Homo sapiens: one gene and its partners. The protein of the gene in region 3 purifies or fractionates together with the protein of the main gene of each other region. This does not show direct contact. Each region holds a gene or a part of one and is shown on either strand. Other genes may lie near its edges. The genes, in order: ZNF552, CDK10, PRKD2, VPS33B, TYR, GATD3 and MCF2L.

Region 1 (3,349 bases), about 11 Mb from region 3:
AGTGGTTTGCAGATGCAGGGATTGTAGACCCTGCCTCTACTCCCTGTGTTACATACATGGTTGTGTCCTTTATGTTATGAGGCCTCCTACATTCTGTGACCATTATAGTCCAGTAATAATACATAGCACCATCTTCCACCTGAAGCCAACATCCTGTTCCTCCAAGTACTTCCTTGGAGTAATTCCTCAGTTTTTCAGATACACTTGTGGGTGGTCTGTGCCTTCCCACCAGAGTTAACATGCACTTCACCAGCATTTTCTTGCTTTCAGGTTGTTGGTGTGGAGTGGAAGATGAGGCGGCACCTTCTAAGCAGAGTATTTATATACAAAGAGAGACTCAGGTCAGGACTCCTATGGCAGGTGTGTCTCCCAAGAAGGCCCACCCCTGTGAGATGTGTGGCCCGATCTTGGGAGACATTTTGCATGTGGCAGATCATCAGGGAACACATCACAAGCAGAAACTGCACAGGTGTGAGGCCTGGGGGAATAAATTGTATGACAGTGGAAACTTTCATCAGCACCAGAATGAGCACATTGGAGAGAAACCCTACAGAGGGAGTGTTGAGGAGGCGTTGTTTGCGAAGAGGTGTAAGTTGCATGTGTCAGGGGAGTCATCTGTCTTCAGTGAGAGTGGGAAAGACTTTTTGCTCAGGTCAGGATTACTCCAGCAAGAGGCCACTCACACTGGGAAGTCAAACAGCAAAACTGAGTGTGTGTCTCTGTTTCATGGGGGAAAAAGCCATTACAGCTGTGGAGGATGCATGAAACATTTTAGCACCAAAGATATACTCAGTCAGCACGAGAGACTGCTCCCTACAGAAGAACCTTCTGTGTGGTGTGAATGTGGGAAATCCTCTAGCAAATATGACAGCTTCAGTAATCATCAAGGAGTTCACACTAGAGAAAAACCTTATACGTGTGGGATATGTGGGAAATTATTTAACAGTAAGTCCCACCTCCTTGTACACCAGAGAATTCACACTGGAGAGAAGCCATATGAGTGTGAGGTTTGTCAGAAATTTTTTAGGCACAAGTACCACCTCATTGCACACCAGAGAGTTCACACTGGAGAAAGGCCATATGAATGCAGTGATTGTGGGAAGTCATTTACCCACAGCTCTACATTCCGTGTTCATAAGAGAGTTCACACTGGTCAGAAGCCTTATGAGTGCAGTGAATGTGGGAAATCTTTTGCCGAAAGCTCCAGTCTCACTAAACACAGGAGAGTTCACACTGGAGAAAAGCCTTACGGGTGCAGTGAATGTGAAAAAAAATTTAGGCAAATCTCTTCACTTCGTCATCATCAGAGAGTTCACAAAAGAAAGGGCTTATGAGTGCAGTGAGTCCAGTCTCATTAAATATTGGAGAATACACACCTGAGTAAGATCCTGTGATTGCAGCAAATGTGGAAAATGTTTACCCAAAGGTCTGCTCTCCTTGGATATTGGAGAGTTCACACTAGAGAAGAGTCCTTACAAGTAAAATAAATTTGGGCAGTTTTGTAGCCACACCTCTGTATTCCTTCAGGATTATAGTTAACACTGAATGAAGGCCTTACTAGTGTGACAAATACAGGATATTTATCCAGAAGTCTGGCTGCATAACTCACAGGAGAGCTGTCATGTGGGAGGATTGCTACATGGGAGGATTTGCTTGAGCCTGGGAGGCAGAGGTTGCAGTGAGCCGAGATTGCAACACTGCAGTCCAGTCTGGACCACAGAGTGAGACCCTGTTTCAAAAATAAAATATATAAATGACATCCAATAAAGTATGCATATTTGAGCTGTAGGATAAGTCTTGAATTTTCTTTTTCTTTTTTTTGAGACAGCCTCGCTCTGTCACCCAGGCTGGAGTACAGTGGCATAATCTCGGCTCACTGCAAGCCCTGCCTCCTGGGTTCATGCCATTCTCCTGCCTCAGCCTCCCTAATAGCTGGGACTACAGGCAACCACCACCACTCCTACCTTTTTTGTATTTTTAGTAGAGATGGGGTTTCACCCTGTTAGCCAGGAAGTTCTCAATCTCCTGACCTCGTGATCTGCCCGCCTTGGCCTCTCAAAGTGTTGGGATTGCAGGCGTGAGCCACTGCTCCTGGCTTGAATTTTCTTATAATCCCATGAAACCATCATCAGAGTCACAATAATGAATTTATCTAATCTATCACCTTTGTATTCACCTGGAGCCTTTATAAAGTTTTTCTCTATGCAGACAACCATTGATTTACTCTGCTGTATAATACTTTCCATTTTCTAGAATTTTCTGACTGATGTAATAAAGTGTTTCCTCTTATAATCCCTGGGTGCTCTCCTGCATCATGCTTATTTTGATATCAATGTAGACATGAGTTAATTTGTTGTATATTGCTGAGAAGTATAGTCTGCCATGAAATGTCATTATATATTCATTCATCCGTTTATGGATATTTGAGTTGCTGCTTGTGTTTTTTTGTGTTTTTTTTTTTGAGGTGGAGTCTCACTCTGTCCCCCAGGCTGGAGTGCAGTGGGGCAATCTCAGGTCACTGCAAGCTCTGCCTTCCGGGTTCACGCCATTGTCCTGCCTCAGCCAGTCCTGTGGACTACAGGCGCCCGCAAACACGCCTGGCTAATTTTTTGTATTTTTAGTAGAGACAGGGTTTCACTGTGTTAGCCAGGATCGTCTCGATCTCCTGACCTTGTGATCCGCCCATCTCGGCCTCCCATAGTGCTAGCATTACAGGCATGAGCCATCGCGTGCGGCTGCTTTTTTTTTTTTTTTAAAGACTGTCGACCAGGTTGGAGTGCAGTGGCGTGATTTTGGCTCATTGCAACCTCTACCTCCCAGGTTCAAGCGATTCTCCCACCTGAGCCTCCCACATAGCTGGGATTACATGCATGAGCCACCATGCTGGCTGTTTTTTGATTTTTAGAAGAGATGGGGTTTTGCCGTGTTACCAGGTTCATCTCAGACTCCTGGCCTCAAATGATCTGCCTGCCTTGGACTCCCAAAGTGCTGGGATTACAGGCCTGAGTCGTGAGCCACTGCGCCTGTAATTGATTCTGAGGCCAGGCGTGGTGGCTCACGCCTGTAATCCCAGCACTTTGGGAGGCCAAGGTGGGTGGATCACTTGAGGTCAGGAGTTTGAGACCAGCCTGGCCAACATAGTGAAACGCCATCTCTACTAAAAATACAAAAATTAGCCAGGCGTGGTGGCACATGCCTGTAATCCCAGCTACTCAGGAGGCTGAGGCAGGAGAATCACTTGAACCCAGGCAACAGAGGTTACAGTGAGCTGAGATCACACCACTGCACTCCAGCCTAGGCGACAGTTAGACGCTGTCTCAAAAAAAATAAAACAAAAACATTTATTCTG
Region 2 (4,183 bases), on a different chromosome or scaffold from region 3:
AGGCCGAGGCAGGAGAATGGCGTGAACCCGGGAGGCGGAGCTTGCAGTGAGCCGGGATTGCTCCACTGCACTCCAGCCTGGGCGACAGAGTGAGACTCTGTCTCAAAAAAAAAAAAAAAAGATACTAAAAAGCCCAAAGCTGAGGAAACGTGCAGGAAGTCTACGGGCATTGGTGCCGTGGGGGAGCTCTCAGCCCCTGTGGCCCTCTGGGAGCCACCTGCCACTGTTTTTCCATCACAGGGACCTGAAGGTTTCCAACTTGCTCATGACCGACAAGGGTTGTGTGAAGACAGGTGGGTGCAACTTGGGCCAGGCCCTGTCCCTAGATGGCACTTGGTGACACACACTCCCCTCTCTGCTGCAGCGGATTTCGGCCTGGCCCGGGCCTATGGTGTCCCAGTAAAGCCAATGACCCCCAAGGTGGTCACTCTCTGGTAAGTCCTTCTGAAGCATGGTGGCCCCTGGGGACCAGGCCTGTCTGGTGGAGGTCTCCTTGGGGATGTCAGGCCGAAGCTGCAACTGGCCTTGGGAATGTTAAGCTACAGGGTCTGTGCACACTCAGAAACGTTGGGTCTAGGACAGCCTCCAGGACACAGCAGGGCTGTGCCACAAAATGGTGAGAGACGGGCTCAGTGGCGTCAAGGGCCTGCCTAGATCAGACACACCTCGCCTTGAGAGCTGGAAACACCGTGGCCGTGAAACCATCTCTGGAGGGAAGGCTGCTTCACGGACTGAAGGACAGGCAGCTTGCATGCTTTCCCTGGTTCTTCCTCCTGGATACTTTTAACCAAACAGGGTCATGCTTAGCCAGGGCTGAATATCAGAGTTGGTCAGAATCAGGTCAGGACCCCAGTGTCGTGTACTCCCCATCTGAGAACGGGTTGGTAGTGGCTGGTGTGGCTGTGTGCCGAGGGTCCGTGGTCCCTGCGACTCTCAGGACACCGCTGCACGTGACAGCTCTCGCCCCCGGCAACCATTGCTGTGTGTGCCACCTGGATCTGCAGGGCCTGGGGCAGAGGGTGGTCCGAGTTGGGACAGGTTTCCAGGCCACCACAGGCTCTCGGGGAGGCTGTGTCCTGTGGAGGCCTGGGCTGGGGGAGAGGAGCCGGCTGTATTGAGGTGGGTGCTTCTGTGTGTAGGTACCGAGCCCCTGAACTGCTGTTGGGAACCACCACGCAGACCACCAGCATCGACATGTGGTGAGGAGATACGGTTACCGCTCCTGGGGCCTCAGGAAGGGCTGGGACAGGAGCCGGGTCACCTGGTTCCTGAGCTCAGCCTCAGGGGAGGGGCAGGAGTGCAGTGGGGTCTTTGCCAGCCTCCCACTCCCAGGGAGGTGGGCCTGAGCCTGGAAACCCAGGAGGAGGTGTGAGAACTTAGCTTGCTGTTCTCAGGCTGGGAGCACAGAGGTCTGGAGGAGGCACGCCTGCCCCTGCACTTGTCACCCCGGGAGGCCTGCGGGGCCCAGGAGGGGAGCCAGTGGTCCCTGCCTGTCCTTCACAGTGTCCCTGACCCAGCGTGCCTCACACTGGCAGGGTCAGCAAAGGTCTGGCTGCAGTCAGGTCCTCTGTTCCTCGCGCTGGCGGGGTCAGCAGACGTCTGGCCGCAGTGAGGTCCACTGTTCTCTGCAGGGCTGTGGGCTGCATACTGGCCGAGCTGCTGGCGCACAGGCCTCTTCTCCCCGGCACTTCCGAGATCCACCAGATCGACTTGATCGTGCAGCTGCTGGGCACGCCCAGTGAGAACATCTGGCCGGTGGGCGTCCTGGGCAGACCCGCAGCCCCCGCCCGTGCCCACGCCCTCTGCGCCCGCAGCCCCCGCCCGTGCCCACGCCCTCTGCGCCCGCAGCCCCCGCCCGTGCCCACGCCCTCTGCGCCTCAGCTCCTGCCTCCCATAGGGCTTTTCCAAGCTGCCACTGGTCGGCCAGTACAGCCTCCGGAAGCAGCCCTACAACAACCTGAAGCACAAGTTCCCATGGCTGTCGGAGGCCGGGCTGCGCCTGCTGCACTTCCTGTTCATGTACGACCCTAAGAAAAGGTGCTGATCTCTGCACGGGGGGCAGGGACCCTCACCACCCACACTGTCCAGACCGTTTCCCAGAGCCCAGCCTCACTGCGGTGGAGAGGCCCCTCCCCAGGCACAGCCGCTCGGAGTGGCCACCTGGCTTCCTTTGAGCATTTGAATCACAGGCTGCTCAGCTGGGTGGGAGGTGAGGAAGCCGCACTCACAAGTCGCACTAACGCAGGCTGCCTCCTCCAGGGCGACGGCCGGGGACTGCCTGGAGAGCTCCTATTTCAAGGAGAAGCCCCTACGTGAGTGTGCAGGGTTCCTGACTCGCTCTGTGGGGTATGGCTGGGAGCCCGTTTTGCCCGGGGTGGGTGGTGGAGAAGTGGCCTGCTGCCCTCACTGACGGCACACCCTTTCTGGGGTAAGAGGACAGGGGCATGTGGAGGCACAGACAGCCCAGGGCCAGGTCCAGAGGCAGAGCTGGACTCAGACCTGGGCCTGCTCCTCCTATCTGGGGCCCTGCCCCGCCCAGCACTGAACCCTTCTCCCTGCAGCCTGTGAGCCGGAGCTCATGCCGACCTTTCCCCACCACCGCAACAAGCGGGCCGCCCCAGCCACCTCCGAGGGCCAGAGCAAGCGCTGTAAACCCTGACGGTGGGCCTGGCACACGCCTGTATTCCCACACCAGGTCTTCCGATCAGTGGTGTCTGTGAAGGGTGCCGCGAGCCAGGCTGACCAGGCGCCCGGGATCCAGCTCATCCCCTTGGCTGGGAACATCCTCCACTGACTTCCTCCCACTGTCTGCCCTGAACCCACTGCTGCCCCCAGAAAAAGGCCGGGTGACACCGGGGGGCTCCCAGCCCGTGCACCCTGGAAGGGCAGGTCTGGCGGCTCCATCCGTGGCTGCAGGGGTCTCATGTGGTCCTCCTCGCTATGTTGGAAATGTGCAACCACTGCTTCTTGGGAGGAGTGGTGGGTGCAGTCCCCCCGCTGTCTTTGAGTTGTGGTGGACGCTGGCCTGGGATGAGAGGGCCCAGAAGACCTTCGTATCCCCTCTCAGTCGCCCGGGGCTGTCCCGTGCATGGGTTGGCTGTGGGGACCCCAGGTGGGCCTGGCAGGACTCCAGATGAGGACAAGAGGGACAAGGTATGGGGTGGGAGCCACAATTGAGGATACCCCGAGACTACCAGGAGAGCCCTGGGCTGGAGGCTGAGCTGCATCCCTGCTCCCCACATGGAGGACCCAACAGGAGGCCGTGGCTCTGATGCTGAGCGAAGCTATAGGCTCTTGTTGGATAAAAGCTTTTTTAACAGACATGGTTTCACCAGCGTTTAATGTGCTCTGATGTTGACCGTCCCTCTGAGTGTTCTGGGGAGGAGGGGGTGGGGCGGAGGGTCAGGAAAGCAGGCTCAGCTTCCAGGGTCAGGGAGTTGTGGGCCCAGAGGGGCTGTCACAGTGGATGCACCCTGCCCTCTCCCTCGCCAGACCCGAGGGTAGGGCAGAGGCACCTCCTCGCCAGCCTGTGGGCTGCACCCACAGGGAATGGAGGGGAGGGGCACCATTACCACTGGACCCACCAAGACCCCGCCGCCTGGGCGGGCTGTCCACAGGCCCTTCCGCCCAGCAGCAGTGACGCTCAGGGCCTTCCCAGCTGTCAGCCACTGCCCGTTCCTGCGCCTCTCGTGCACCTCCACATCTGGTTTGAGGTCAGGTCATTTCCTGTCTGTGGGCCCAGCTGCTGTGACACCCAAGGGGAGGGCCGGCGTCCCCGAAGCCAGGTCAGCCGTGCACCCGGCAGAGCCCCGCAGATTGGCTCCAGCAGAGCTTGGGGTGGGGGGAGCTCGGTGTCACCAACAGGCCCTTGAGGACACTCGTGTGGAGAATCCCTGGGACACGTGGAGGACCCCCAAGTCCTGAGCCCCGTACTCCGTACTGCAGGGAGCAGGCCAGGAGCCACGGGCCTTGGGGCACAGGGTCCTTCTCAGGGACAGGTTCAGGCACTGGCTGGAACAGGCTGGACCCCTCTACCCAGCACATGTGGGCATGCGTCTGGGTTCCGAGGGTGGGGAAATGTGGAAAGGCTCCTGCTGGCCGGCTTAGGCCTGCTGCCCTTGGAGCCTTCCATATACAGAGAGTCCCACCTCCAGCAAGGGTTGGCCTGGACTCTCCAACCCCC
Region 3 (4,183 bases):
TCTCTGCATATGCTGTTTCCCCTGCCAGGAATACTCTTTCCTTCATCCTAGACTTAGCTAAATCCTCCTCATCCTCAAGTGTAAGCTCAAATGTCACTCCTAGGACCAAGTTGGATTACTCTCGCAAATGCTCTGCATCACACTCGTTGCTTGTATGGGTTAATGATCAATGTCTGTCACCCACACTGGATTATAAGCTCCAGAGGGTGGGAACCTGGTACTCTCTCAACATTTTTTGCCTCTGCCTAAAATGACCTCCCATTTTCTTTCCCACATCTCACCCTGCCTCGGCCTCCAGATCTCAGTTCAGATGTCACCTCCTCCAGGAAGCCCCCCTATATACCCAGATTGGGTCAGGTACCCCTCTGGGCTCCTCTAGCTCCCTAGCTTCCTTGTCCCAACCCTGCCCACCCTGGACTGTCACTCTCTGAAGATGGGTATTCTGCCCTACTGGACTCTGAGCCCCATGAGGGCAGGTCTTGGGCTGTCCTGGCCACCACTGGGTCCCCAGCACTGTCCCGCACAGAGGAGGCACTCAGTAAGTGCATGAGGACTTATCAGCACCTGGGACAAGGCTCATGGAGGGGAAGTGATATGCCCAGGGCCACATATCAGGCCAGGAGCTTAACAGAGATTTGTTGTGGATTTTTGTTGTTGTTGTTTTTTCTGTTTTGGAGACAGAGTCTTGCTCTGTCACCCAGACTGGAGTGCAGTGATGCAATCATGACTCACTACTCCCAGGCTCAAGCAATTCTCCTGCCTCAGCCTTCCAAGTACCTGGAACTACAGGTGTGCACCACCACACCTGGCTAATTGTTTTTATTTTTTGTAGAGATGGAATCTCATTATGTTGCCCAGGCTGGTCTTGAACTCCTGGCCTCAAGTGATCCTCCCTCCTTGGCTTCCCAAAGCGCTGGGATTAACAGGAGTGATTAACAGAGTTTGAACCCAGGCCTGCTGAGTCCAGAAGCTGCGTTCTCAACCCCACCATTGCCCACTTTCCTCTTTGGCCCTTCCATTCCCCAGAACCGTGCCCCACCCATCTAGATCTATTCTCTCAAGGACCCGAGGTGGGAGGACTTACTGTGGGGCGCGTGGCCTGGGGCGCTGGGTGCGTCCTGAAGGATGACGGGCATCAGGGCCTGGCGGATGGCTGTCTCCCAGCCCCGGGCGGCCTCAGCCCCCTGCCCACTTGGCCCACCCGGAGTCCCGCCAGGCATCTCGCCCACGAAGTAGGTGGCATTGGCAGTGACGATCTCAAAGCAGTGTGGGTTGGTGCCCGGCGGCACAAGGCTGAAGTTCTGGGCGGACTCCACCGTGAGGATTTCTGACAGCGGAATTTCCTGCAGGACGTGGAACCAGCACAGGTGAGGATGCCAGGCAGACCTTGGAATTCTAGTGCTTACCCAGAAGGATACACGGGATCCATGTTGATAGGGATGGGCCTGGTTTGCACAGTGGTCAGACAAGTTCCCAGTAATTCTAAGCCTGTTCTCACTGTTCTTTTATAATTACTGGCAGAGGCCAGGTGCGGTGGCTCATGCCTGTAATCCCAACACTTTGGAAGGCCGAGGTGGGCAGCTCACTTGAGGTCAGGAGTTCGAGACCAGCCTGGCCAACATGGCAAAATCCCGTCTCTACTGAAAATACAAAAATTAGCCAGGCGTGGTGGTGTGCGCCTGTAATCCCAGCTAATCGGGAGGCTGAGGCAGGAAAATCGCTTGCACCTGGGAGGCGGTGGTTGTAATGAGCCAAGATCGCACCACTGCACTCCAGCCTGGGCGACAGAGTGAGATTCCGTCTCAAAAATAATAATAATAATACTAATTACTGGCAGAAGTGATATTGAAGCAGAGACCAGAAAGGTAAGAAGCAGCCAGTTGGCAAGGAGTAGGGGAACAGCATGTGCAAAGGCCCTAAGGAAAGGCTATGCTCAAAAGCCAAGCTGTATCCCCATCACATGGGCGGTGCCTGGACATAGTAAAAGCTTGATAAACATTTGATGGCCGGATGTGGTGGCTCGTGCCTGTACTCCCAGCACTTTGGGAGGCCGAGGTGGGCAGATGGCCCAGGAGTTCAAGACCAGCCTGGGCAACACAGTGAGACCCCAGCTCTACAAAAAATTTAAAAATTAGGCATGGTGCCACAAGCCTGTAATCCCAGCACTTTGGGAGGCCAAGGCAGGCAGATCGCTGGAGCCCAGGAGTTTGAGACCAGCCAGAGCAACACAATGAGACCCCCATCTCTACAAAAAATAAAAAAACTAGCCAGGTGTGGTGGTGCGCACCTGTAATCCCAGCTACTGTGGAGGTGGGAGAATCATTTGAGCCAGGGAGGCAGAGGTTACAGTGAGCCATGATCATGCCACTGCACCTGGGAGACAGGGCAAGAGCCTGTCTCAAAATAAATAAATGGGCTGGGCATGGTGGCTCATGCCTGTAATCCCAACACTTTGGGAGGCCAAGGCAGGCGGATCACAAAGTCAGGAGTTCGAGACCCGCCTGACCAACATGGTGAAAGCCCATCTCTACTAAAAATACAAAAATTAGCCAGGCGTGGTGGCACACCTATAATCCTAGCTACTTGGGAGGCTGAGGCAGAAGAATCACTTGAACCCCGGAGGCGGAGGTTGCAGTGAGCCAAGATCGCGCCACTGCACTCCAGCCTGGGTGACAGAGCGAGACTCCGTCTCAAAAATAAACGTTTGATAATAAATGGAGGAAATGAGGCCACACAGGGCTTTGCGGGCCACAAGGAAGAGCCTGGGCTTTGTCCAAGGGCCCTAGGAAGCCACTGAAGGCTTTTGAGCATCATCCGCTTGTGTGCGGAGGGCAGATGGAATAGAATGAGATGGAGACAGAGAACCAGGAAGGAGGCTGAGGGGACCCAGGCGGGACAGAAGGCACAGGGACTATGGGGTGGGAAACGTGTCAAAAGAGGAAGGAGGGAGGTAGGAGAGAGGAAAGAATGAATGACTTAGGCAGCCCATAAAACCAGGTGATGACATGGACACGTCGGGGGGGCATGGTGAGGACAGCATTATATTTTATTTTATTTTATTTTTTTGAGATGGAGTCTTGCTCTGTTGCCCAGGCAGGAGTGCAGTGACGCGATCTCAGCTCACTGCAACCTCCACCTCCCAGGTTCAAGCAATTCTCCTGCCTCAGCCTCCCAAGTAGCTGGGGTTATAGGCACCCGCCACCATGCCCAGCTAATTTTTGTATTTTTAGTACAGACAAGGTTTCACCATATTGGCCAGGCTGGTTTCGAACTCATGATCTCAAGTGATCCGCCCACCTCGGCCTCTGAAAGCGCTGGGATTACAGGCGTGAGCCACCACGCCTGGCCAAGGACAGCATTTTAGATGGTGTGGTCTGAGCAAAATGGGAAGATGATAAGGAACCAGCCATGGAAAGTTCAAGGAAGACGCTCCAGGGCAGGTAACAGCTGGAGTCCAGGTTTTATTACTCTAAGACAATGGGAGCCACTGGGGGGTTTGACGGTTTTAATGAAGACTCCCCTGGCTGTGGGGGAAATGACAGAGGTTGTGAGGTCAGAAGCAAGGACCCTGCAAGGAGAAGGCTGAAACCATCCAGGTGGAAGACAGTGGCTGGGACACAGTGTGGGCATGGGAGGTGGTGACGAATACGCACACAATGCAATACATTAATTATAAAGAAATAGTGAGGCCGGGTGCGGTGGCTCATGCCTGTAATCCCAGCACTTTGGGAGGCCGAGGGGGGCAGATCATGAGGTCAAGAGATCAAGACCATCCTGTCCAACATGGTGAAACCCCGTCTCTACTAAAAATACAAAAATTAGCTGGGTGTGGTGGCATTCACCTGTAGTCCTAGGGTGGGAGGCTGAGGCAGGAGAATCGCTTGAACCCGGGAAGCGGAGGTTGCAGTGAGCCGAGATCGCGCCACTGCACTCCAGCTGGGCGACAGAGTGAGACTCTGTCTCAAAAAATAAATAAATAACAAAAAATAAAGGAATAGTGAGAACAGCCTTAGAATTACTGGGAGCTTAATATATACCACGCCTTAAGCCAATTGGTTTAGTGGATTGGCTCTTTGAATTCTCGCACCAGCCCTGAGGTGAGTATTAGCATTTGAGGCATTTTGCAGGTGAGAAGCGTGAGGCACTGAGAAGTAAGGGAACCTGCCCGGAGTCCCCCTGGCTG
Region 4 (4,183 bases), on a different chromosome or scaffold from region 3:
CAGTGGCGCGATCTCCACTCACTGCAGCCTCTGCCTCCTAGGTTCAAGCATTTCTGTGCCTCAGCCTCCTGAGGAGCTGAGACTACAGGCACGAGCCACCATGCCCATCTAATTTTTGTATTTTTAGTAGAGATGGGGTTTCACCATGTTGGCCAGGCTGGTCTCAAACTCCTGACCTCAAGTGATCTGCCTGCCCTGGCCTCCCAAACCCAAAGTGCTGGGATTACAGGCATGAGCCACCGCTCCCAGCCCTGTTTGGTTATTTCTGATGTGAAAATTTATCTCAACAAAGTGTGAGCTCCTTCACACTGCAGCAGAGGCTTCATAGTCCTTCTGCTCAACTCTGTAGTACCTGACAGTACTAGATGCTCTTTGGACACTCAGTAAATAGTCTAATTGCATCTTCTTCAGAGCTATGGCCCTGAGCACCTGCTAACCTTCTCCAATCTGCGAAGAGCTGGGCTCCTAACGGAGCAGGCCCCCGGGGACACCCTCACAGCCGTGGAGAGTAAAGTGAGCAAGCTGGTGACCGACAAGGCTGCAGGTAAGCAGGGAGCACAAGTGACCCCTGCTCCAGCTGTTGTCCTGACTTCTCTCAACACGCAGCATGCTGGGAGGGACAGAATGAATTGGAGAAGGTGGACTGATTCCTTCCTATTAATGTCATTACTATTATTACTACTACTTCTGCTAGTAAGAGCAGTTTCCACATAGTAAACACTTACCATGTGCTGAGCCCTTTAGTTTCTCATTTAATCTCACAAAGACTGTGAGATAAATTTTCTCATCCTCATTTTATGATGAAACTGAGGCTTAGAGAATTAAGTGATTTGTCCAAGGTCCCTTAGTTAGTAAGTTAGGTCGGTTTAACTCCCAAAGCACATACCAATAAACTCGGGTTACCCTGTGGATTGCATTTAGTAGAGAGCTGGTACCCCGTAGGAGGGGGAAGACTGTGGGTGGGGAGAAGGGTGGGGAGTATATCTTGATTAGTTCCAGGGAATTATAGTTGAACAGCTTCCGAGAGTTTTTGGATGTGATTGGTGCTGTCGTGTCCTGAATGGTGTTATCTGTGGCAGTGTCATGAATCCATAGACCTTAGGTGAAACCTGACACAGATTTCTTCCCCAGGAAAGATTACTGATGCCTTCAGTTCTCTGGCCAAGAGGAGCAATTTTCGTGCCATCAGCAAAAAGCTGAATTTGGTATGTGGAACAGGGATGGTTAGGGGAGACAGTGGGTTCATTCCATTGTGGAGTACTTTTCTTTTTTTTTTTTTTTTTTGAGATGGAATCTTGCTCTGTTGCCCAGGCTGGAGTGCAGTGGCACAATCTCAGCTCACTGCAACCTCTGCCTCCCAGGTTCAAGTGATTCTCCTGCCTCAGCCTCCCAAGGGATTACAGGCATGTGCCACCACGCCCAGCTAATTTTTGTATTTTTAGTAGAGACAAGGTTTCCCCATGTTGGCCAGGCTGGTCTTGAACTTCTGACCTCAGGTGATCCGCCCACCTCGGCCTCCCAAAGTGCTGGGATTACAGGCATGAGCCACTGCGCCCAGCCCATTGTGGAGTACTTTGAATCCACAAAAACCTTTTTGTCATTTCATGTGTATAAAGATTCTTTTGTTTGGTAGTCTTATAGCATGGTAGATTCATTCATTTAATCAACATGTAACAAGCACCTGCCAATGCCAGAGAATATTCTAAGTGCTGCTTCAGTGACAACCATATCCTGTGTCACTTAAGGGTAGGGAAAGGAGAAGCCATCCCTCCAGCCCCTTTACATTATTCAATAATGGCGCATGGGAACTCATTCCAGAGAACTGGCAGTTACTGAACAAAAACTGCCATCTTCCGTTATGGATTCTCTTTTCAGGGCTATTGCTGGTTCTCCCTTTAGTTGAAATAAGAATTGTTCCTTGGGCCATGCCACTTTATCTGACCCTTTAAAGGGTTAGGGAGCTGAGCTGTCACTTGCCTAATGAAGTCCCTTTGTCTTACAGATCCCACGTGTGGACGGCGAGTATGATCTGAAAGTGCCCCGAGACATGGCTTACGTCTTCGGTGGTGCTTATGTGCCCCTGAGCTGCCGAATCATTGAGCAGGTGAGAGCATGTAATTCTTGCTCCCATTCATATTTCATTCTCTCTGCTTTCTCTTGGTCCCTGGCGTGTCTCAATGTTTTTTTTTTTTTATTTGAGATGGAGTCTTGCTCTGTCACCCAGGCTGGAGTGCGGTGGCACGATCTTGGCTCACTGCAACCTCCACCTCCCAGATTCAAGTGATTCTCCTGCCTCAGCTTCCGAAGTAGCTGGGACTACAGGCATGTGCCACTGCACCCAGCTAATTTTTGTATTTTTAGTAGAGATGGGGTTTCATATAGACAGGGCCAACTATATGTTGACCAGGCTGGTCTCGAACTCCTGACCTCAGGTGATCCCCCCGCCTCAAACTCCTAAAGTGTTGGAATTACAGGCGTGAGCCACCACACCTGGCCCTGTCTCAACTTTTTGCTACTTGAGTAATGAGCAAGAAATGTGACAGTCTGGCTGCTGTGCCCTTCCTTTCCTAAGCCTGATACTGTCTGTAGCCTTAAAAACAGTGCTTACACCTTCCCAGGTGCTAGAGCGGCGAAGCTGGCAGGGCCTTGATGAGGTGGTACGGCTGCTCAACTGCAGTGACTTTGCATTCACAGGTATGTGGCATTAACAGTGGGGTAGGCTGGCAGTGAGAGGTGGGCTGGATGCACCACTCAGGACTAGCATGTCAGGGAAGGGCTGAATCTGGTCTGATCCTCACAGATATGACTAAGGAAGACAAGGCTTCCAGTGAGTCCCTGCGCCTCATCTTGGTGGTGTTCTTGGGTGGTTGTACATTCTCTGAGATCTCAGCCCTCCGGTTCCTGGGCAGAGAGAAAGGTAAGAGAGAGCAGAAAGGTGAGAATTGGCCTGCATTGTATCTGGGTAACAAAGTGTCAGCTGGGCACGGTGGTTCATACCTGTAATCTCAGCACTTTGGGAGGCGGAGGCGGGCAGATCACCTGAGGTCAGGAGTTAGAGCCTAGCCTGACCAACATGGTGAAACCCCATCTCTACGAAAAATACAAAAATTAGCCAGGCATGGTGGCCGGTGCCTGTAATGCTAACTACTCGGGAGGCTGAGGCAGGAGAATTGCTTGAACCCGGGAGGTGGAGGTTGCAGTGAGCTGAGATTGCACCATTGCACTCCAGCCTGGGCAACAATAGCAAAACTCCATCTCAAGAGAAAAAAAAAAAACACGCAAAGTGTCCTGCACAGGAATATTTTTCTCCTGGCCTCAGAATACAACTTGCCATAGCCTTAACTCTGGGCTGCCACAGCAGGGAGCCCAGTTATACCAGTCATAGAAAGCAGTGGTGCCCAAGAGCATGGCACTCACGTCTCTGTCTATAAACTGGTGCTGTGATCCCGTGGGGACTGTGGAACTGGAGAGGCTCTATGGGTTGCCGTTGGGGCCTAAGATCTGTGCTGTCTCTTCTGCTGCTGCATTTGACTCCTTAGGCTACAGGTTCATTTTCCTGACGACAGCAGTCACAAACAGCGCTCGCCTTATGGAGGCCATGAGTGAGGTGAAAGCCTGATGTTTTTCCCGGCCAGTGTTGACATCTTCCCTGAACACATTCCTCAGTGAGATGCAGGCATCTGGCACCCAGCTGCTATAACCAAGTGTCCACCAACTACCTGCTAAGAGCCGGGAGCATGGAACGTGTTGGGATTTAGAGAACATTATCTGAGAAAAGAGTTCACTTCCTGCTCCCAGGATATTTCTCTTTTCTGTTTATGAAGTACAACCCATGCTGCTAAGATGCGAGCAGGAAGAGGCATCCTTTGCTAAATCCTGTTTGAATGTCATTGTAAATAAAGCCTCTGCTCTCAGATGTAATACGTTGGTCGTTCTGGACACGCACTTCCATCTTTATTAGTGAAAGCCCATTGGAGCTTGCTACAGGGGCTTCCTGTGCTTCTTGGCCTGGACTTTGTAGTGGCTCCAGGCCTGGTCTGGTTCTTCCCTGTAAAAATCACTCTACCACTCTGTACCTGAGTTTCCTCTACCATAAAATGAGGGAGATGGCTGAGGTGACCAGCAAGCACGTTTCCAGTTCTAAAATGTTGTGATTCATTACATTTTTGAGAAAATGACTTTG
Region 5 (4,183 bases), on a different chromosome or scaffold from region 3:
CATGAGATGTGTAATACCAGATGCTATCCACAACTGTATGAGTATTATTTTCCTAATTACTTATTAATTGTCAAGCAGAACTTTTTCCTTTTTCTCTCTTCATGAATGTGTTCAATTTTAATACTCTCTAGAAAAAAAAAAAAGTGTGTCAAGTCAGTAAGCCCTGAACTGAAATTGATACAATTATCAACTTCAACCTTGTTCTATGATTAAATTGCTGTGTAGAAACAGGTTTCAAAAATAAAATTAGAAAACAGAGTGGAAGGAAGATGACTGAAGAGAAACAAGCAAACCACAGTTTAAGAAAGGTGAAATGAGCATTTGCTGCTCACCTACTATGTTTTAGTAGTGTCAAGGGCTTATTAGTGGCAAAGGTGACAGTCAAACCCCACTCACATTGGCTGTTTCCATTCCTTCACACAGCCTCTCTGGTTACAAAGTCCTTAAAATAGTTAAGATCGATTGCTTACATTGCTTTAATTCAGAGTTCTCAATGTCAAAATCACCTAGGAAGCTTCCAAAAAACCATTTAAAAAGTAAAAATAAAAAACTGTTGCAAGGTTTTTATGCACCTAATTTCTTGCCAGAAATTCAGATTCAGGTGGTCTCCTGTGAGGTTGTAAAGTTCAAGAGTCTTTTTTTTTGGCAGTGGTGCAATCTCCATACGCTGCAACTTCCGCCTCCCAGGTTCAAGTGATTCTTCTGCCTCAGTCTCCCTAGTAGCTGGGACTACAGGGGCCTGCCACCACTCCCAGCTAATTTTTTGTACTTTTAGTAGAGATGGGGTTTCACCCTGTTGGCCAGGCTGCTCTTGAACTCTTGACCTCAAGTGATCTGTCCGCCTCAGACTCCCAAAGTGCTGGGATTGCAGGCCTGAGCCATCAAGCTGGGCCTTCAAGTGTTTGCATTTTTAAACCCTCATTTTGTGATTCTAATGTGCAGCCAGCACTGAGAATCATTGAGTTAATGGAGATTGTTTTGGTATCTTTTTACTTTCACTTTACAAAAACGCATGTTCTGTAATAAACACACCATTAATTTGAATGCCTTTGTCCAAATTGAATGCTTAAATTAAGAACTAGACTATTTGTGTGAGATGAGATCAAATAGTTTCTAGATTGAGTTAAGACCTTCCAAATTAGCTAGGCTGATGCACCTTTCACATAAAGCCTTCTTTTTTTATTGGTTTCAGATATCATTTTACTTGACCCCAAAATTGAGATTTGAGAGATTTGATAGCATTTATTAACTCTGAGCTGAGAGATCTTCAATTTTATTTAGGGTAACCTGTGCATTTTATTAAAAAACTATAGAAAAGCCTAAAATGGTAGGATGATTGTCCAAAGTCACACATCTGAGGACTAAAACCAAGCGGCTCTGACTGCAGTGCTTTTTAAGTCAACAATGTTATTTCTTGTTTATAAGGATCCATTTAGGTTCAGAAGGGGTCAAGTAACCCGCTAATTTCTGGGTGTATAATTTGACATTTGATCACGTTGACTCCCTTAAAATTGTCCTGCCCCAGACAACATAGGCAGACACAGTGATGTAGTCCTTTTAATTTATATCATAATGAAAATATTCTGAGACTTTTACTGATCCACCTCTGTTACTCAGGTAGAGTTGACCCTCTCCCCGTCTTTGTGCTATCATTGTACTTTATACAGATTTGTATCATAGCACTTGTAACTTTTCATTACATGTAGTGGTTTTCCAGCCTGTCTGTATCTGCCAGCCTGTCAGTCGCTCCAAGGTGGTGATCATTTCTAAATATTTTTGTATCCACAGAGCACAGGACTATAATATACACATGGAACAGGCTTTATAAATACATGCTGAATTTAACATCAAAGAAACGTTAGCTCCAATGCTAACATACATAAAATATTAAACTCTGCATGGGTAGATTTCTAGGACCATTCACTGCAGTTTTTTTATAGCACTGGATTCCCAATGCCAAGGATACAACAATGTCAACAATAGCCACTTACTCAAATTTGGGTATAATATATCTTGTGTCGTTCTCTCTGGTAGTTCCATATGTATGTCTGCGTGTGTGCATGCAAAGAAAGACAATACAAGAGAGAAGATGAAGCAAGGTGCAACATAGCTGAGTGTGATTTAAATGAAGTTAATATTTATTGGTCAGAGTTTTCTGTTAAATATGTTAAAATCAGGTAATTAATTTATTTGGAAATATTGTGTTCCTAATTCATGTCTGTTGTTTGCTCATTTATTTAACTCCCAAAGCTTTAAATTAGGGGCCATGTTTATCATCAATTAAAATAGTTCATTATATTTGGAGGTGGAGGGTTGCTTAATAACATTTAAGTACAAACTACCCATGCTCAATATAATTAGATCTAATGTTATGCAACCAACAGATCAGCTAGCTACAAAAATAAAAGGGGTATCAGGAATAGGTGTCATCATGAACAGAAACAAAGAGGAAAAAACATTTCCTAGCTGATACACATGAGTGAATTGTGACCAGGGAATTCACTCATCAGGTGAAAAGCACATCACATGGAAGCAAAGAGAAGAAAAAAAGTCACATTTCAGCAGAGAGTCATGGGTTTTAGGTAACCATGACGACAGCTCAGTGAAATAACAGCTTCTCTTTTTTCTTTATGAAAAAGATTTTGTGGAATGTCATACGGTTTACATTTTTTCCCCCAGATAAACCTCTAATGCTATAACAAAATCTTTGCTCCCAAAAGCTTTTAATATCTGGCAGTTTATTGCTATTTCTTTAAATTTAAGAGAACAGTATTTAGGTTCACCTTCCTCATTAATATATCTATTTCTTCTATCTCCCCTTTTTTCTTTGACTTGGAACACTTGATCGTCCCCCCAGCATATGTTATAAATCACTTGCGTTGAAATAGAAAAAAAACAGAGTCATCATCAGAACATCCAGGCTCAAATTCTACCCCTGCCATTTAGTAGACGACATTGGACCAGTTATTTAAAATCTTTGACCTTTGTTTTTTCCAAAGAGAAAAAAAATGAGGTAGAATTACCATCTATACATGTTTTGTGTGTGTGCTAATAGGAGGATTAAATGGAATGGGAAACAGAATAATGTAGTGGAAAGAGTATAGTCTTTTCAGTCACATCAGCATGAATTTGAGTGAACTTTCATACTTACTTAGCTACAAGACCCTAAGTTACTTAATTATTCTGAGACGATTTTTGTCCCTAAAATTAGAATAATATAGGTTAAAGCATTACTGTGAAGGGATTCAATAAGATGTGTTTATATGGCTTGTTTAGGATCTGACCTATTGTTTGAGTTTCATGTGTGGAAATAATATATTTTTAAATGATACATCAAAGTTAGATATAATAATGAATATTCAAACAGTGTTATACACCCAAAGTTAAAAACAATTTGGTGACCTGCCCAATGGTCTTGTTTTCAAAAATAATTATGATAGTTGTCATTATTAAACACTTTACACTTGGCACTATGCTAAGTGCTTTATACATGTTAGATTATTTGATCATTGATAGAAACGTATAATTCCCATTTACAGATGAAAAAACTTAATACCCAGAGAGCTTAAGTAACTTGCCCAAGGCCATGTAACTAATAGGGTCAGTATTGGAAACCAGGTCTTTCTGACTAGAATCTTCATGATCATAAGCACAATGCTAATATAATTTCTCCTAGCCTGCCTCCTCTCCTGTATGCAGTGTAAAGACTAAGGTTTGGAGTTTTTCAAATTATTTCTGGAACCAGGGTAGATTTTCTCCTCGTTAGTAATACCTCCAGTCATCCGAACACTTAGTCACTTGGCAGTTGGCATTTCAGCAAAAATAGTTTCATTCAAGCCTCTCTAATTTAACTGAGTTGGCTGTAGGAGTCTTTAAGGCAGCAGGATCTTTTGAAAATATCCTGAGATTACTCAAAGAGGAATAAAAATGATTTAGTCTACATACTTGTAGCGTCCAGTTAACCCAAATTATAAAAGCATCCAACATATTACATTCAATGTAAAAGTTAGGTTAGTTTTATTCAACCATTCCTAAGCCATTAACACGTCATAATTAATGTAGTGGGTATTGCTTCAGAATAAGGAAACTTGTGTTTCAGTGCTTTGGTTTTGACTCTAAATATCATATGGCCCTAAGACAAGTCACTCAACAGTTCTAGTTCTCAATTATATATGGATAAAAG
Region 6 (4,183 bases), on a different chromosome or scaffold from region 3:
GGGACCCTCTCAGGAGAGGGTCCTGAGACCCACAGTCAGAAAGGCGGGGAACATTAGAGTCCTGCTTTGGGGCAGGTAAAGGGCAGGCGGGAAGGTCAGAGGCTGCCCGAGGCCCGACACAGCCAACGTCGTAACAGAAAGCTAACAAGCAGCACGGGAGTTAGGAGCCGGAAACCAGCGTCTGAGTCTCAGCACCGCAGCCCGGGTTCTGCCAGCTGCTCCGGAAGGTTCCAGGGCGTGGGCCCTCTCGCCCTGGTGGCCTCCTGCTGCACCACTTCCTGATCCTCCTGCTTCCTATGCTTATTTCTGTTTAAAAAACAGGAAAATATGTTCACATCAAACGCGCATATGTGCAGCCATGCCCATGTCCCTTGCTGCAGCTGACTGAGGGTCTGGAGCTGTGCCTAGGAAGCCCCCCAGGAATAGACCCTGGTTGTGAGGCTGTCTGAGGAGGCCTTTTGTCTCCCGGTAGGAGCACGTTTGCCGTGGACGGGAAAGATTGCAAGGTGAATAAAGAAGTGGAGCGTGTCCTGAAGGAGTTCCACCAGGCCGGGAAGCCCATCGGGTGTGTACAGCCGTGCAGGCCTCGGGGAGGGAGGGAGGAGGGTGCGTGGGCCCGCGGCCTCTGTTCTCAGCCAGGAGCTGCCGCTGATCCTGAAAACTCACAGCTGCTTTTCTTGTTTTAACTGAGGGGATTTCACACGATGTCACTGGTGACTTAACAGGAAGGAGAGGCACAGTGCACTTCCCTAGAGGAGGCCTGGAATTCTCTTGGCTCCCAGAGGTGTCCCTAGGCAGTCCCTCAGGACCCCTATCCTTTACCAGACCCCTTCTCCCAAGCCCCTTAGCCACAGTACCCCCAACCCCGCTGACTTCTGGCCAGTCACTGCAGCACGTGCTCCATCCCTGACGCCATCCACTCCCAGCGGCCTCCCTCCTGGGGAGCCACAGCCAACCACGCCCCTTTGTCCCTGCTCAGACAAAGCCTGGGTCCTGAGGTTGGCGGCACGAGTAGGGCGCCCACTCCTTCATCCACGTAAGCGCCTTGGCTTACGTGGCGGGTCGCAGCCCCGCAGGGAGTGTGTGCTCTTCAGCGTCTGCTGCCGGGAAGTCACTCTCAGATGTGTGAGGGTGACCCAGCAAGGCCGGGTTCCGCCTCGGCAGGTGTGATGCTTCCACGAGCCTCCCGGCACCTGCTCCTTGGTGGTCCTGGAACGCGGCGCTGTGCTGTCCAGGTCTCAGCTGCGTCTGGTGCTGGCAGGGCGAGAGCCGCACTTGCGTGGGTGAACATCAGTGAGGCGCACTCGCGATGGCCGCTCACTACCGAGTTCTGTCAGCCGAACAAGGATGAGGATCTATCGGAATCCTCTGTCTCCCCATCCACAGTCACTCACTTAAGGACCTGCCTGGTCACTGTCCAGGGAGGCCCCTAAAGTGGAGCCTCAGGAAGAGGTGCAGGCTCAGAGCTCCTGAAGGAGGTCCCTGCTGCAGCCGTGTCACAGCCGGGGTGAAGGTTTCGCCCATGGTCTCCACCTCGGGATCCCGTCCTTGTCAGAGAAGTGTTCCTTGGATGAGCGCCCAGAGGGAGGAGCCCATGGCCCTTTCTTCTGTGACTGATTAAAAATCTCGATGAAACAAGACAGCCCCTGGCAGGTGAACCACTGCCTCTGAGCATGCCTCCCCTGAAAACAGTGTGGGGCGCAAGCCCATCTCCTCCCCAATCCAGCCATGAGGCTCCCCTGGAAACAGCACAGGGCGCAAGCCTGTCTCCTCCCCGGTCCAGCCATGAGGCTCCCCTGAAAACTGCAGGGCACAAGCCCGTCTGCTCCCCGGTCCAGCCATGGGGCTTCCGTGCACGGTGACCCACAGGCTTTTTTCCTGAGGAAACCTAAATCCTTTCCCACTGGCCCCACCCACCCCTCAGCCTGGTGTCAGAGGCCTGCGTGGCCAGCCAGGGGCTGTTAGGCGGCCCAGCCGCTCACTGCTGGGACCCCTTCCTTGAATGCAGTAGTCGAGGTGGGCGCTGGGCTGTGCCAGGAGCCACTGTGGCATCTGTAGCTGGCAGTTGATGGCTGGGCGGCTGCACGCAGCGTCGGGAGCTGCTGAGAACCTGCTTCCTGGACTTTCTGCCTGCGCAGAGGGCGGCAGGGGGGTTTCATCTCATAGGCAGCCAGAAGTTGCTTCAGGACATGCAGTTTTGGGGGCGGGTTTGTTTTGAGAGTATCGCTCTGTTGCCCAGGCTGGAGTGATCTTGGCTCACTGCAACCTCCGCCTCCCGGGGTCAAGCAATTCTCCTGCCTCAGCCTCCCAAGTAGCTGGGATTACAGGTGTCTGCCACCAGGCCGAACTTTTGTAATTTTAATAGAGACAAGTTTTCGCCATGTTAGTCAGGCTGGTCTCGAACTCCCGACCTCAGGTGTTCTGCCTGCCTCAGCTGCCCAAAGTGCTGGGATTACAGGCATGAGCCACTGCACCTGGCTGTGAAATGTGTTTTTAACAGTGTTTCGTTACAGCTCACGGTAGCAGTTTCCACCTGGGCCTGTCGGGAGTGGGTAGGACTGTAGACAGCGGGAGGAGGGATGAAGGGTGCGGGGTGTTGAGGGCAGGGTGGGGCCTGACAGCTGTGGGCTACACCACAGGTTGCCAGGGGATGGGGCTGCTGTTAATGAGGCCGTACTCCTTCCACTGTTGCCCCTGGGTGGCCATGAGGCGCTGGACGACACAGGTCACTGAAGGCCCTGCTGTGGGCACAGTGCCTGGCACACAGGGGCCTCTGTTGACTTGGCAGGGAGGGGTTCCTGATGAAGCAGAAGCAGGTCCCAGGGGTGGGTGTGGCAGGACCCTCAGTTTCAGGGCTGCTGCGGCCTGTGCGTCAGGGTCAGGGGCGTGCGTCCACCAGCCTGCACTTGTTGAGAGTTGTGCTGCAGGTCGGAGGCTGGCGAGGCTGCTCCTGGCCCGTTGTGCCTCCTGTAGAAGGGGGGCTGGTGTGAATGAGAAGTGCAGCTGTGTTATCTATTGCTGGGTCACAGACCACCCCACAACTCAGGGCTGGGGCAGCCGCACATCATTACCCTCTCTGTGAGTGGACTTTGGCAGCCCGGGACTCTCGCCAGTCTGGGGTGTCCTGGGGCTTGGGGCTTAGCCCATGGCTGTTGGGGGTTCCCCTCAGGGGTCCTTGGCCTGGTGCTTGAGTGCCTGCAGGGCGTGCTTGGCGGGGAGTGGGGCTGAGGACACCTCACTCTCAGCCTTGAGTCACCTGGTGCCACCTCCATCACATCCCATGGGCCACAGCCTTCTGGCAGCGCAGGCTCACAGGGGGCAGGGTCGGCAGGGCTCCCGTGGCAGGGCAGCCTGGGGTCATGGCGAGGGTAATTTCTGTTCTGCAGGCCATGCAGCCTGCCTGACCCGTGTTCTTTTCGCCTTTCAGCTTGTGCTGCATTGCACCTGTCCTCGCGGCCAAGGTGCTCAGAGGCGTCGAGGTGACTGTGGGCCACGAGCAGGAGGAAGGTGGCAAGTGGCCTTATGCCGGGACCGCAGAGGCCATCAAGGCCCTGGGTGCCAAGCACTGCGTGAAGGAAGTGGTCATATCCTTCCTGGTAGCCAGGCCCGGCCCGCTGTCGTGCTTGTCCCTGAGACGTGCATAGGGACGCCCCTCCCTCCGGGCTGTCTTGGTGGGTGGCCTCTTCACCGGGAGCTGCACCTGCTGCTCTCCCTGTGGGGCCTCCCCCAGTGGGCACCGCAGCCATGTGTCTAAGGGCAGAGAGCAGATGGCTGTGACAGCCCAGCTGGTGTGAGGTGGGTCACAGACACGTCAGAAGCGCAGCTCTGGTGCGTGGTTGGCAGATCTGGCAGATCCAGGTCCCTTGCCTGACTGTTTAGTCTGCTCAGCAACACCCAGGCAGCCACACTCCGGGCCCAGCGGGGGGAGGGTGAGGAAAGAGTGTGTGCGAGGTGTGGAGGGAGAGCAGCCGGGCGTGCAGGAGGCGGGGGCTTCCTGAGATGCTGGGGGAAAGCGGCCGGGTGTGCAGGAGAAGGGGCTTCCTGGCTTCATTTGGGCGGAAGTTCTCAGGCCAGTTTGGGTGGCCAGGTGATTCAGCCAGCCTTGCGGCCCCCAGCCCCTCCTGTTGAGGTGTGTACCCTGAGTTCTGAGATGATGGACCAAGAACACCAGCGGGGCTGTTGC
Region 7 (4,183 bases), on a different chromosome or scaffold from region 3:
GAAACCATTCGTGGCAATGTGTAAGAGGCCAGGGGTAGGGTGGGTGGCCCACCTGGACGATGTAGACCTCCTCGCGCGCGTTGTACCAGATCTCGAACTTCTTAGCATCTCCCTTCACGTTCTCCGTAATGCCAACGGCAGCCATCTGCGAGCAGAGAGTGGAGATGGGGTTCGCGTGCACAGTGAACCCACTGCCTTGTTTTTAAAAGGTGTTGGTGCAGGCACGAAATGATGGAAATACTTTGGGGGTGAGGGCTAAGAATGGCAGAATACCCCACCCCTACACCTAAGGCTGAGAGCTGGGTGTCAGCGTGGCCACCTCAGACCGAGTTACAGACTTCCCCCGTCGGGGTCTGTGGCCAGGAGCGTGCTGCTGCAGACCCGGCCTCACTTACGTTTAAGGACTGCTTGTAGCTGTAGGAGGGAGCTTTCTCATACCCCTCCCCATTCTCCTCCCTCTTCTTGCAGAAGAGCACTGCCTTCTCGTGCAGGAACAGGTGCCGCTGCATGGGCTTGAACCTGGCCAGCTCCTTCACCTTGGTGTGGCCCCTCTTGTGGTCGGTCCAGACGCTGAACGAGCCCTGCATCAGCAGCTTGCCCAGGTCGCCGAGATTCCCCTAAATGTGCGACAGCAGGGCTGTGTTCAGGACGGGATGGGCCTGGGGCCATGGACGCGCATCGCTGAGTGAAAGCAGCCACTCTGCAAAGCCCACCCACGGTGGGATTCCAGCTGCAGGGCGTCCCAGGAAAGGCAAGCTCGTGGAGACTGACAGGTCAGCAGGTGCCAGGGGCTGGGGGAGGAGGGATGGACTGGCGGGGCACATGGGCTTCTAGGACAGTGAAGCTGCTCTGTGTGATGCTCTAGCGCTGGGTGTAGGATGTTACACGCCTGTCCAAACCGCAGAATGCACAGCACCCAGAGTGAGCTCCAAGGGGAACGGCCCTCAGTCACTAATCAGCATCAGCGCTAGTTCACCATGTGTGGCAGGTGTGGCACCCATGCTAAATGTCAACACTAGGGGAAGCCTCAGGGCCTCTGATTTATACTCAATTATCTCACAAACCAAAAATTGCTGCAATAAATCAACTCTATTAGTTAAAAAAAAAACACCTGAGAATGAGTGCTGGGTGGACATAAAGACGGACAAAAGATGAATAAGCTGTGACCTGATGTGGGGCTCTACGGGGAAAGTGACATCTGCCTTCTGGGGCCACTTGCTCTAAGTCACCAGCCTGCAAATCGCAGCCCAGAAAACAGAAGTCACGTCTGCTCCGAGCCACGCCTCCTCCCCAGGAGAAGACAAGGAGTGAGGAGGTCTGAGCTGCGTTCCTGCTGGAGATGCGTGCCCTCCAAGCAAGGGACGCTTCCTGATTTTCTCCACGTCCCAGAGAGCCCAGTGGGGTCTGTGGACCCGGCTGTGGGGTCTGTGGACCCGGCTGTGGGGCCTGGGAGTGGGCTTATCTAGGGACCACCCCAGACCTCCTGCCCAGAACCTGCACATTCACACCAAAGCGAGGGGCGTGTGCAGGGAGGCCGCCAAGTTGCTGGGCTGGTGTATTCCACGGAGGCGGCGGGGAAGACCGGGCATCTGGGCGCCTTACGTCATAGCCGGTGATAGCGATGAGGTGCATGGAGTCGTTCACGGCCTTCAGGATGCCCAGGATGGAGCTCAGCGCCTCCTGCAGGTCCTCAGCCCCCTCGCAGTTCCTGCTGTATTTCAGCATTTCCTGAGGGGCATGGGGTGAGGCAACCGCGTCGGGACACGGAGAGCCCTGGCTCCCCTGGAACAGACCCCTCAGGAGCTTGGCACGAGGTAGGGATGCTGCTCACCCTCCCCTGGTCTGTGGGGAGCTGCCCTGCCTGCCCTCCTGCAGCTGGGACAGACTGAGTGGTGCTGCAGATGGGGCAGCACCCCTGCCAGGTGCAGACCCTTGGCACCTGCTCCCCGGGGAGCTCCCTCCTGCCACCCGGATGCCAGGTGCAAACCCCTCGCACCTGCTCCCCGGGGAGCTCCCTCCTGCCACCCGGATGCCAGGTGCAAACCCCTCGCACCTGCTCCCCGGGGAGCTCCCTCCTGCCACCCTGATGCCAGGTGCAAACCCCTCGCACCTGCTCCCCGGGGAGCTCCCTCCTGCCACCCTGATGCCAGGTGCAAACCCCTCGCACCTGCTCCCCGGGGAGCTCCCTCCTGCCACCCTGATGCCAGGTGCAAACCCCTCGCACCTGCTCCCTGGGGAGTTTCCTCTCGCCACCCTAACCCTGGCCAAAGGCATGGAGTTGCAGTTTCCTGCCTGAAGGTTAGAGGGACCCACATGGCAAACTCATAGCTGGAATCCCCAGTCTAGGCCGCCCCACGTCCCTGCTGTGTGCCAGATAATCCGGGCACGGCTCCACCCTGGAGGGACGGGTCAGCACATCACACAGAATCCCATGTGGGCTGGGCTGTGTGCCAACCCATGGGGACGGGGACTCGTCTGCTCACCTGCGTCCTCAGACCCCTAACAGTGGCGCACAGTAGGACCTCGAAAGGCATCCCAGCCTCAGCACAGGCTCGGAAGAGGTGCCCTTGGCCTGGGAGGGGCAGGGCGCGATGGGGACGGGGCCCCAGGGCGGCACAGACACCTGGCCAGCAGGTGCTGGGGAGGCCGGGCCACGGTCACCGCGGAGCCCACCTTGAGCAGCAGCTGGTACTTGGTGATCCTCTGCACTGGCTTCAGCAGGTAGGAGTCCAGGCTCAGCTTGTGGTCCAGCTTTCTCTGGCATTCCTGGAACCAACCCAGAGCCTTTGGTTTGCACAATTTTCATTATTCCTCAGGAGTCGGCTAGGAAAGGGAGTAACGTTCTAAAGGAAGGTCCGGGGACAAACCTGGAAAAACGGGCAGTCGGAGCACTGTCTCCACAGGCTCTCAGAGCGGGGCTTGTTCTGACAGTACTTCTCATAGATCTGGAAATCTTCCATCTGCACCGAGGGACAGGCACCGCATCACGCAGTGAGGGATGGGCAGCGCATCACGCGGTGAGGGACGGGCACCGCATTACGCGGTGAGGGACGGGCACCGCATCACGCAGCGTCTTCCCGGCCCTGCGAGGCATTGCTGCTGGCCCCATAGCTTCCGAGGGCCGGCACTGGCTCCCAGGCTCCGCTGGGGGGCCTGCCCTCCATTAATGGGGCTCCCTGTCCCAGAGCCCCTGACTTCCCAGAGCACAGGCGTGGAGTGGAGACGGGGTTCCACCGCAGCCATTCTTAGAAGGCCATTTATGGTGTGGTTTGTTGATTTGTTTATATAATAGAACTTCTAGCATTTTCTCTGGCAGTTTTACAAATTACCTGTTATTTAGCAAAAAACAGACCCTAGCCCCATTGTGAAGTGCAATTGCTCCTGGGTGCCTCTAGGGCACAGATGGTTCTAGGGGCACAGAAGGTTTTAAGGCACAGGGCTCAGAAGTTTCTAAGGGACAGGAAGTTCTGGGGGCAAAGGAGGTTCTGGGGGTACAGAAGGTTCTGGGGTTCAGGAGGTTCTGGGGTACAGGAGGTCCTGGGGTACAGGAGGTTCTGGGGGTTCAGGACGTTTTCTGGGGTTCAGGAGGTTTTCTGGGGTTCAGGAGGTTCTGGGGGTTCAGGAGGTTCTAGGGGTACAGGAGCATCATGGTATCTCAGCCAAATTGAAAACATCGTATTTTGTGATTTCAGTTGGTTAGAATAGGAACTTGCAGTAGAATCTGAAGTCATTATTCAGTACTTTTAAGAAGTTGTGACAAAATACACGTCAAAACACCACCTACCCTCTCCAGAAAGCATCTTCCAACCAGTTCTGGGCAGTCAGTGTAGTTTTCCAGCTCCCTGAGGAATATCCTAGACAAAGAAGGTTTTTAAGTAGTATGAAAGACAGGCCGAGTCACGTGGACCAGTGACAAGTGGATGGACGTCATTTTTCAGAAGCCTGTTACGCCTTGCTCTGGGCAATCTGCCCCGCATGACTTGGAGACGCCGCAGCCACGCCTGTCCTGAGCACCAAGCTCTCAGGCGCCAGCAGGTGCAGCCCCAGGCTGAGTCTCTTTATATTTCTGGCCTTGGCTGCACACAGAAGTTGGAGGGAGCTGCTTTTCCCTCAGCACACACACGGCTCACAGGGCCGCAGGCAAAGACAGAGATGGGACCTTTCAGGGCCCTGGAGGCGCCAC

Evidence for each region.
Region 1: the proteins of PRKD2 (region 3) and ZNF552 purify together in Homo sapiens (affinity purification with mass spectrometry, with the first as the bait; one large-scale study listed by BioGRID). This does not show direct contact.
Region 2: the proteins of PRKD2 (region 3) and CDK10 purify together in Homo sapiens (affinity purification with mass spectrometry; one large-scale study listed by BioGRID and IntAct). This does not show direct contact.
Region 4: the proteins of PRKD2 (region 3) and VPS33B purify together in Homo sapiens (affinity purification with mass spectrometry; one large-scale study listed by BioGRID and IntAct). This does not show direct contact.
Region 5: the proteins of PRKD2 (region 3) and TYR purify together in Homo sapiens (affinity purification with mass spectrometry, with the first as the bait; one large-scale study listed by BioGRID). This does not show direct contact.
Region 6: the proteins of PRKD2 (region 3) and GATD3 purify together in Homo sapiens (affinity purification with mass spectrometry, with the first as the bait; one large-scale study listed by BioGRID). This does not show direct contact.
Region 7: the proteins of PRKD2 (region 3) and MCF2L purify together in Homo sapiens (affinity purification with mass spectrometry, with the first as the bait; one large-scale study listed by BioGRID). This does not show direct contact.

What each region holds. Positions count from the first base shown.
Region 1 is NC_000019.10:57,806,025-57,809,373, reverse strand, and holds the end of ZNF552 (zinc finger protein 552), read left to right. Parts: intron 1-270; coding exon 271-1,334; 3' UTR 1,335-2,292; downstream 2,293-3,349. UniProt on the Homo sapiens protein: May be involved in transcriptional regulation.
Region 2 is NC_000016.10:89,693,034-89,697,216, forward strand, and holds the end of CDK10 (cyclin-dependent kinase 10), read left to right. Parts: intron 1-240; coding exon 241-293; intron 294-364; coding exon 365-434; intron 435-1,139; coding exon 1,140-1,199; intron 1,200-1,394; coding exon of another isoform or gene 1,395-1,512; exon of another isoform or gene 1,513-1,529; intron 1,530-1,535; coding exon of another isoform or gene 1,536-1,631; coding exon 1,632-1,755; intron 1,756-1,897; coding exon 1,898-2,037; intron 2,038-2,259; coding exon 2,260-2,312; intron 2,313-2,561; coding exon 2,562-2,659; 3' UTR 2,660-2,695; coding exon of another isoform or gene 2,696-2,742; 3' UTR 2,743-3,321; downstream 3,322-4,183. UniProt on the Homo sapiens protein: Cyclin-dependent kinase that phosphorylates the transcription factor ETS2 (in vitro) and positively controls its proteasomal degradation (in cells).
Region 3 is NC_000019.10:46,692,791-46,696,973, forward strand, and holds part of PRKD2 (serine/threonine-protein kinase D2), read right to left. Parts: intron 1,344-4,183; coding exon 1,085-1,343; intron 1-1,084.
Region 4 is NC_000015.10:90,998,411-91,002,593, reverse strand, and holds the end of VPS33B (vacuolar protein sorting-associated protein 33B), read left to right. Parts: intron 1-411; coding exon 412-544; intron 545-1,131; coding exon 1,132-1,205; intron 1,206-2,002; coding exon 2,003-2,104; intron 2,105-2,618; coding exon 2,619-2,694; intron 2,695-2,800; coding exon 2,801-2,917; intron 2,918-3,539; coding exon 3,540-3,619; 3' UTR 3,620-3,921; downstream 3,922-4,183. UniProt on the Homo sapiens protein: May play a role in vesicle-mediated protein trafficking to lysosomal compartments and in membrane docking/fusion reactions of late endosomes/lysosomes.
Region 5 is NC_000011.10:89,180,423-89,184,605, forward strand, and holds part of TYR (tyrosinase precursor), read left to right. Parts: intron 1-4,183. UniProt on the Homo sapiens protein: This is a copper-containing oxidase that functions in the formation of pigments such as melanins and other polyphenolic compounds. Catalyzes the initial and rate limiting step in the cascade of reactions leading to melanin production from tyrosine.
Region 6 is NC_000021.9:44,139,778-44,143,960, forward strand, and holds part of GATD3 (glutamine amidotransferase-like class 1 domain-containing protein 3, mitochondrial isoform 1 precursor), read left to right. Parts: intron 1-472; coding exon 473-565; intron 566-1,164; coding exon of another isoform or gene 1,165-1,297; exon of another isoform or gene 1,298-1,386; coding exon of another isoform or gene 1,387-1,621; exon of another isoform or gene 1,622-1,638; intron 1,639-3,427; coding exon 3,428-3,584; intron 3,585-4,183.
Region 7 is NC_000013.11:113,083,669-113,087,851, reverse strand, and holds part of MCF2L (guanine nucleotide exchange factor DBS), read right to left. Parts: intron 3,855-4,183; coding exon 3,785-3,854; intron 2,961-3,784; coding exon 2,868-2,960; intron 2,767-2,867; coding exon 2,674-2,766; intron 1,729-2,673; coding exon 1,603-1,728; intron 618-1,602; coding exon 396-617; intron 146-395; coding exon 53-145; intron 1-52. UniProt on the Homo sapiens protein: Guanine nucleotide exchange factor that catalyzes guanine nucleotide exchange on RHOA and CDC42, and thereby contributes to the regulation of RHOA and CDC42 signaling pathways. Seems to lack activity with RAC1.